Linked DNA regions of Homo sapiens: regions 1 and 3 are each linked to region 2. The links come from fine-mapping of genetic effects on gene expression. A gene starts in region 2. Each other region holds a variant in brackets. All regions are shown on one strand. Distances are from middle to middle.

Region 1 (2,843 bases), 190 kb before region 2:
TTTAAAACATACGATTCAATGGTTTTCAGCAAACTCACAGAGTTGTCCGCCCACTTGAGAGCAAACACATGTTCAATTTTCTTTTCCTTTTTTTTTTTGAGACAGAGTCAGCTTTGTTGCCCAGGCTGGAGTGCAGTGCCATGATCTTGGCTCACTGCAGCCTCCCCATCCTGGGTTCAAGTGATCCTTCTGCTTCAGCCTCCCCAGTAGCTGGGATTACAAGCATGCGCCACCACGCCTAGCTAATTTTTGTGTTTTTAGTAGAGATGGGGTTTCACCATGTTGGCCAGGCTGGTCTCAAACTCCTGGACTCAAGTGATCCACCCACCTCGGCCTCCCAAAGTGCTGGGATTACAGGTGTAAGCCACCGTGCCTGGCCTACATGTTCAATTTTCTATGAACAAAGGCTTTAGTCCTTGACCCAGGGCTAAAGTGGTCTGTCCAAGCTGTTGTTGGTAGAGGGAGTATGATAAAATGTTTAAATCTCATTTGGTTACCTTGAGTCCTGGAACATGCAGTAACTGTCATGCTATAGACATCATCTGTATTTGGCTGGGAATACAAATGAAGATTGTGGTGTATTCAAGCAGTAGGGTTTTTGCTTTTGTTTTTGTTTTAGTGCCAACAAAACTTTTTTTTGTCTGACTACATTAAAGATAAGACTGACTATATTTATACAACAGAAACTTTGTAATAGATTTTTTCAGCTTTGTGAAATCGAATTTTTTTTCATCAGGGCTGGTTGGATTTCCTTTTTACCCTGTAATCCAAGCGTTAATAGTTTGTTAGAAGATGGGTTATTGCATGTCACTTTTTTTTTTTGTAAAATAAAAACATACCTTACAAGTTGTTTTTCTTAAACATGGGTTGGGTGGCTGGAGGGGTGAGTGGGAAATGTAAGTGTCCTGGAAGCTTAAACTGAAAAGGAGAAGGATTCCACATTCGCAGAGAGGCAGAGAAAAGAGCACAGACTTTGGAACAAGATGGACATAGGCTAGAAGCCTCCCACTACTTGTTGAGGAATCAGTCAATAACCAAAGCCTCAGTTTCCACAATAATAAAATGCATCTAATGATACCCAACACACCAAGATTGAATGAGCTCAAAAGAAATAACTCATAAACCACTTCGCATGCTACTTCCCTTCCCTTCTGCTCAGGTTTCTTTCAGGAAACATGAGGC[C/T]AGCCACATAACAATAAATCCACAAATAGAAGCAAAATTAGCTTCTTTGGGTATGAAGTAGATTATTACAGACTAGATGTGGAGAAAATCCTAGATGATATCAAGGGCCTACCATTTCCTGAGGTTGCTAGATTTTTGCTTTCTTTCTTTTTTTTTTTTTTTTTCTGAGGCTCACTATGTTGCCTAGGTTGGAGTGCAATGGCACAATCTCAGCTCACTGCAGCTCCAACCTCCTGGGCTTGAGTGATCCTCCCACCTCAGCCTCCTGAGTAGCTACAGGCATGCGCCACCACACCTGGCTAATTTTTGTATTTTTTGGAGAGACAGGGTTTCACCATGTTGCTGGTCTCAAACTCCTGGGTTCTAGAGATCTGCCCACCTTGGCCTTCAAAGTGCTGGGATTGCAGGCATGAGCCAGCGTGCCTGGCAGGATTTTTCTGCTTCAGGACTTTATTCTAGTTGAGGGCACTTGATCCCCAAAAATAATTCTCTCAGCTATTAATAGATGAGTTGGGAATGTCACACTTTTCAGACTGAATGGCACTAAGTGCCAGATGTTCTTCGTCAGGGTCCTTAGGTAATTTCTAGTCTTCTAACAGGCCTCTCCGCGCCAGTGCTTCCCACACCAGTATCACCCCCCTGCTCTGTAGCCAGAGCTCTTTTTCTTTTTTTCATGAAAAGTTTTCTGGTAAAAGGCAGAAAACCTGCTAACCAAATTCTAAAAGAGGGTGTGGCGGCTCATGCCTGTAATCCCAGCACTTTGGGAGGGCCAGGCTGGAGGATCGCCTGAGGCCAGGAGGTTGAGGTTGCAGTGAGCTATGATGGTGGATTGCACCACTGCCCTCCAGCCTAGGTGACAGAGGCAGACCCTGTCTGTAAAAAAAATAAAAAAATTCTACAAGAGCTGGAACACTCAGAGCCGTTTTTCTAACACATCTGATGGCACTCAAATGTGCCATCTCTGATGGCTCCTTATTGCTGTCAGGCAGGAGCAATTGGCAGCAGCTCACCTACACTCCAAGGCTGGTTGTTTATGACCCACATCTACTTTGACTGGGTGGTACCTGGGTTGTACTGGTGGTTAAATATTTTGAACATCACCCCTGCTTATAACATACAGTCCAAACTCTAAGAAGGTAAGTAGAAAAGAAAACGCATTCGTTTGGCATCTGTGTCAAGCCTGGACTTAATGCTTTCACAGCATTGCCTTTTTTCATTTTCAGAACAGCCCTGGAGGCAGCTACTATCCCCATTACACCCATTACAATAGAGGAAGAAACTGTGTCTCCAATAGATTCAGTTACGTGGCCTACAGGGTCCCTAACGGCCCACCGGCCCACCTTCCCAACATTGTTTCTACTCTAACCACACTGAGCTTTTGATGGTCTCTGAGTCATAAGCACCTTCATGCCTCCAGCATTGGAATATGCTCTCCTCTCTGCCCCTCTGCTTCCTTTTCACCTCACAGATCCCACTCAGCCTTCCACGTCACCCCACTGTGGGAAATAACAGGGCAAAAACAGTCCCATGGGAGTACCGCTATGAATCTTTATGAATACAACCGTGTACTGTGCAATGCAACAAACAAGCAACAGACACAATCAAGCTTGAAACTGCGGGGCAGTGAGAGGGGTGTGTAATGATATGGAAATGATTTTAAG
Region 2 (2,843 bases):
GCATTAGTGTTGTAAAGCCTTTCTCAATCCCCCACTGTGAGAAGGAAGTCTATTCGATTTTTTTTTCTCATCAAGTAGGAAGACTTCCCAGTACTCATTCTACCCAACCTGTCTCACCCTCCAGCACTAGCTTGGCTACCTTTACACAGCTGCTGCTCGGGATACACTAAGCACAATTATTCCTGAATATTTGTGTCTTGTGTCCTCAGATCAGAGAATTCTATTACAGGTAACAAGTATGGTCCAGATAACCAGGCAGTCCAAAGGGAGACTGAGGCTTGGCTGACGCTGAAAAACGGTTACAGAAGGACAAGTGCTGGCACAGAGCCTTGGCCACCCATCTCTGCCCCCAAGTGCAATTCATTTTCTTTGAAAGAGGAAAACAGGCAAGGGAGAAAATATATAGAATTGAAAATACATTATGCAAATGTGGCTAGCAAGGATTAAATTGTTAATTTTAGAGAAATAGGAGAAAGATGCCCAAGTTGTGCTGAAGCAAGGAACCAGGACTTTCTTAATAATTAGTTTTGTCAGTCCAGTAGTGTGCAAAGGTTGAGCTGCTTGTCCCCAGGGACAGAAATCCCATAATTTTGAAAGTCTTTTGACCAAGAGCTGGCTCAAAGCAGAATATGTGCAATGCGTTTCTTAACTATTGAAAATCTTGTCACCACGGGATATAGACATGCTAGTCAGACTTCCGTACCATGACAGAAGGTCAAATCTGAAGCAGTAAAAGAGATCACATAAATATTGCCATCTCATTTCCAAGCTAGTCCCCTTAACTATTAAAACACGGTGACCAGATCGCTGCTTCGGGCCTCCTGAACTCCCGCCTCTCCCACCCGGAAAGTACTGACCCAGAGAGGACACACCTTTGCTTCTGCGCAGCCCAACTTCTGCAAGCGCTCAAGAGTTAATTACTCCTTCACCTTCCTGGGGCCTAACAGCGTTACTGGGTCCTGATTATTTATACAGACGAAAAACGATGTTCAAGAGATTTTGACAACTTAAAAAAAAAAAAAAGAATGCGGTGGAAGTCTAAGATTGCCTCCCCTATGACAAAACACAGCCCCGCCGGCCGCCCGGGCCCGACTCCGCCCGCCCGCCCGCCGCAGTTTCGGGGCTGCGGCCCGGGGGACGCGGGCGCGGCAGGGCTGGGGTCTCCTCCGGGAGTCGCGGGGCGCACGGGCCGGGAGGGGCACGCGGGCGGCACCTCGCACCCGAGCGGCTCCCGGGCCCGGCGCCCGCTCACCTGGTGCGTGTTGTTGGCCAGCTTGGCGACGAAGTCCCGGACCCGGCCGCACTCCTCGTCCTCGCCCGGCGCGCTGCGACGCCAACGGCCGCCGCGGGGAAACGCGCCCCCGGCTGCGGCCGCCCGCAGCCCCCAGCTCACCCCGATGGGGCCAGACCAGCGCGGCAGCGGCGCAGCGGGCGGCGGCGGCGCGTCCAGCCGGTCCTGGCTGAGGGTCGACGGCGGCAGCAGCTGCAGGAGGAGGAGGAGGCCGAGGCCATGGGGCCAGCGCGAGAGGCCGTCCGCAGCTCCCCAGGGCCGCTCCATCGCCGCCGAATGCCGCCGACGCCGACACCTGCCGCCCGGCGCGCCCGCCCACCCCCGCCGGCGCGCGCCACACCCCCGAGCCGAGCGCGGCGCTCCTTGGATACGCGCGGCCGGGCCTCTCCGCCCCATAGGCTGGCCGCCTGTCCCTCTTCCCCGGCCCACTCCTCATTGGCTCGCGTCGCCTCCGGCTTCGGGGGTCCTGGATTCGGATGCTAAGATGCGGGACTGATTGGCTGGAACGGGGCAGAGACTGCTGAGGTCAACCCCGCCTCGCCCGGCGTCTCCCGGGCCCGGCTTGTGGAGTTCACGTAGGAGCTTCTCATACCTTCCCGCCGAGCCCCGGGCTCCTGGCGTCGCGACCCCTTGCCGCACCTCTAGCGCCCTCAAGTTGGGGCTGGGTTACGTCCCTCCTGTTCCCCAGAGACACTCCTAAAATTCCTTCGGTGAGGCAGAGCCTGGAAAAACCTACCCAGGAAATCCCTGAGCTTGCTCAGCTGGAAAAGGGGGCTCCATCATGAACCGGGGCTTCGGGTTTTTATAAACCCCGCTCACTGGAGCGCCCATTGTCTGCTAAGCAGCTGCCTTGCTGCAAGAAGGTGAATGCGAACTGATGTGGGCCACATCCTACGGAGACAGACATCAGGACATCCGTGACTCCTGCAAGCCTGAAGAATAGTCTTTCCATACGTTTGGCCTCTCTCACCTTCCTCTTCTGAGGGGAGGTAGGCCAAAGGCGGAATTACTTACAGGTTTTCCAGGACTTCGAATGTAGCTTAGGCATTAGGGGCAGGTAAAAGAGGGGCAAGAGAATGATCCAATGCCTACTGTACACATGATCATTTCCTAGATGCACATTTATTTTACCAAAGTGCCTTAACTCTGCAGTGAGAGCTTCGGACAAGTTTGGTTCCAGTATGTGATGTCCTCTAAATTAGCACCCCGATCCACCTCTAATGAATAAAATAAAACCCCTACGCTGTTCCCTTTACCGCAGAAGCTGCACACACAACTTCTACAACACGTAGCACAGGTAAAACCAGTTCTGAATCCTTAAGCTTACTGACTCCATCCCTTCAGAAAGCTAGAAATTGTTCAGTAGAAAAGGTAGCAAATAGAAAGATACAAAATATGCAAGTCATTACACTCAAAGCAAGTAAAGATTACTTTTAATTATAAACTGGCCATAAACCCAAATGAGGATATAGTCATTGTAGAGCAAAATGATACAATGCACCCAACCCGATATTTACATTAAAATATTTCCAGTCACATTAACTTTCAAACA
Region 3 (2,500 bases), 120 kb before region 2:
CCACCCCTCCTAGGCTCTACGCGGCGCAGCCCAGCCTAGGGCAGAGTGCGGGAGGATGGGGAGCTGGGGGTGCTTTCCTGTTTCCTTCGTCTGGTGAAAGCTTTCACTCTCTCCTCTGTTTCAACTAACCCTCTGTCTGCCTTTTCTGCCACTTTCCTTTCCTGCCTCTCCAGATTTCTCTTCTTTAACTTCCTGCATTAACCCTGGGCCGTGGTTCCTACGCCCGAGGCTCCCTTCCCTTCCCCAGCCGCACTCATGCCCTGCTCCTGTCTTGTGCTTTATCCTGCCCCGCTCCCCATCGCCTGCCCGCAGCAGCGACGAAACGTCCATCTGAGGAGCCTGGGCCTTGCCGGGAGGGGTACTCACCCCACCTAAGGCCATCTAGTGCCAACTCCCCCCCCACCATTCCCCTCACTGCACTTTGGACCCCTGGGGCCAACATCTCCAAGACAAAGTTTTTCAGAAAAGAGGAAAAAAAGAATTTAAAAAAGGATCTCCACTCTTCATGACTTCAGGGATTCATTTTTTTTATACGCTGGAAATTGACTCCCCTTTCCCTTCCCAAAGAGGATAGGACCTCCCAGGATGCTTCCCAGCCTCTCCTCAGTTTCCCATCTGCTGTGCCTCTGGGAGGAGAGGGACTCCTGGGGGGCCTGCCCCTCATACGCCATCACCAAAAGGAAAGGACAAAGCCACACGCAGCCAGGGCTTCACACCCTTCAGGCTGCACCCGGGCAGGCCTCAGAACGGTGAGGGGCCAGGGCAAAGGGTGTGCCTCGTCCTGCCCGCACTGCCTCTCCCAGGAACTGGAAAAGCCCTGTCCGGTGAGGGGGCAGAAGGACTCAGCGCCCCTGGACCCCCAAATGCTGCATGAACACATTTTCAGGGGAGCCTGTGCCCCCAGGCGGGGGTCGGGCAGCCCCAGCCCCTCTCCTTTTCCTGGACTCTGGCCGTGCGCGGCAGCCCAGGTGTTTGCTCAGTTGCTGACCCAAAAGTGCTTCATTTTTCGTGCCCGCCCCGCGCCCCGGGCAGGCCAGTCATGTGTTAAGTTGCGCTTCTTTGCTGTGATGTGGGTGGGGGAGGAAGAGTAAACACAGTGCTGGCTCGGCTGCCCTGAGG[G/T]TGCTCAATCAAGCACAGGTTTCAAGTCTGGGTTCTGGTGTCCACTCACCCACCCCACCCCCCAAAATCAGACAAATGCTACTTTGTCTAACCTGCTGTGGCCTCTGAGACATGTTCTATTTTTAACCCCTTCTTGGAATTGGCTCTCTTCTTCAAAGGACCAGGTCCTGTTCCTCTTTCTCCCCGACTCCACCCCAGCTCCCTGTGAAGAGAGAGTTAATATATTTGTTTTATTTATTTGCTTTTTGTGTTGGGATGGGTTCGTGTCCAGTCCCGGGGGTCTGATATGGCCATCACAGGCTGGGTGTTCCCAGCAGCCCTGGCTTGGGGGCTTGACGCCCTTCCCCTTGCCCCAGGCCATCATCTCCCCACCTCTCCTCCCCTCTCCTCAGTTTTGCCGACTGCTTTTCATCTGAGTCACCATTTACTCCAAGCATGTATTCCAGACTTGTCACTGACTTTCCTTCTGGAGCAGGTGGCTAGAAAAAGAGGCTGTGGGCAGGAAAGAAAGGCTCCTGTTTCTCATTTGTGAGGCCAGCCTCTGGCTTTTCTGCCGTGGATTCTCCCCCGTCTTCTCCCCTCAGCAATTCCTGCAAAGGGTTAAAAATTTAACTGGTTTTTACTACTGATGACTTGATTTAAAAAAAATACAAAGATGCTGGATGCTAACTTGGTACTAACCATCAGATTGTACAGTTTGGTTGTTGCTGTAAATAGGGTAGCGTTTTGTTGTTGTTGTTTTTTCATGCCCCATACTACTGAATAAACTAGTTCTGTGCGGGTACAGCACTGTCACTGTCCGCTTCTGTGTGGTACCCTGTCCTCCCACAGGGAGGAAGGTCTGGTCTCTGGAAAACAGAAGAGCCGGCAGGGCCCAGAAGGCCCCACCGGGAGGTCGGGAGACTCAGACACCACTGGCTGATAAGCCTGTCCCTCTGCCCATGTCCATGACACTGCTCCCAAATAGCTGGATCAGCACAGAGCCCATTTCCTGGCATTTCCAAGGAAGACATGGTGGGCGGGCAGGAAGGTGTCCTTTTCACCAGGACGGAAAGGACTTCTACGGTGGGAGAGGCTGCACGGGGCAGGCAGCCTTCCAGCCCAGCCCCTCAGGGCTGAGTCCTAGACAGGGATGAGTTTTCTGGGGCAGAATTCAAGAAGCAGGGAGGGCTGCATTGAGAGGCTGGTTGGAATTGAATGGTGGTCAGTGACTCAGTGCCTCCTAACTATACTGCTCAGGGTTGTTTTTTGTTTTTTTTTTCCCATTGGAAAATGAAGCAGCTACTCATACTGAAGCCAAGTGTGTGCTTTGCAACATTACTTCTCAGCCTAAGTTTTGTTTTTGTGTATATATATGATATATATTTAAAAGTATATATGC

Direction of the effects. Positions count from the first base shown, and alleles are read on the strand shown. Sizes are in standard deviations (SD) of each study's normalised expression. Not every link is listed here.
As copies of T replace G in region 3, the expression in liver of the gene that starts at base 1,584 in region 2 goes up (large effect, 1.3 SD a copy in GTEx).

The links.
Region 1: its variant is fine-mapped to the expression of SORT1 in whole blood (INTERVAL, PIP above 0.99).
Region 3: its variant is fine-mapped to the expression of SORT1 in liver (GTEx, PIP above 0.99).

What each region holds. Positions count from the first base shown.
Region 1 is chr1:109,205,936-109,208,778 of GRCh38, forward strand. ELAPOR1 (endosome-lysosome associated apoptosis and autophagy regulator 1) reads left to right here. Exons shown (of 22, transcript NM_020775.5): 22 at 1-846. Among named protein-coding and RNA genes, the nearest start is that of SARS1, 6.6 kb to the right of the region's middle. The variant C/T (reference allele first, on the strand shown) is at 1,183.
Region 2 is chr1:109,396,335-109,399,177 of GRCh38, forward strand. SORT1 (sortilin 1) reads right to left here and starts at 1,584. Exons shown (of 20, transcript NM_002959.7): 1 at 1,253-1,584. The coding sequence starts at 1,558. PSMA5 (proteasome 20S subunit alpha 5) reads right to left here. Exons shown (of 9, transcript NM_002790.4): 9 at 2,708-2,843. RefSeq lists silencers at 1,361-1,460, 1,471-1,540, 1,581-1,710 and an enhancer at 1,737-2,718.
Region 3 is chr1:109,273,849-109,276,348 of GRCh38, forward strand. It overlaps CELSR2 (cadherin EGF LAG seven-pass G-type receptor 2), which reads left to right. Exons shown (of 34, transcript NM_001408.3): 34 at 174-1,903. The coding sequence ends at 201. Among named protein-coding and RNA genes, the nearest start is that of PSRC1, 8.0 kb to the right of the region's middle. RefSeq lists an enhancer at 404-2,435 and cis regulatory regions at 1,116-1,135, 1,120. The variant G/T (reference allele first, on the strand shown) is at 1,120.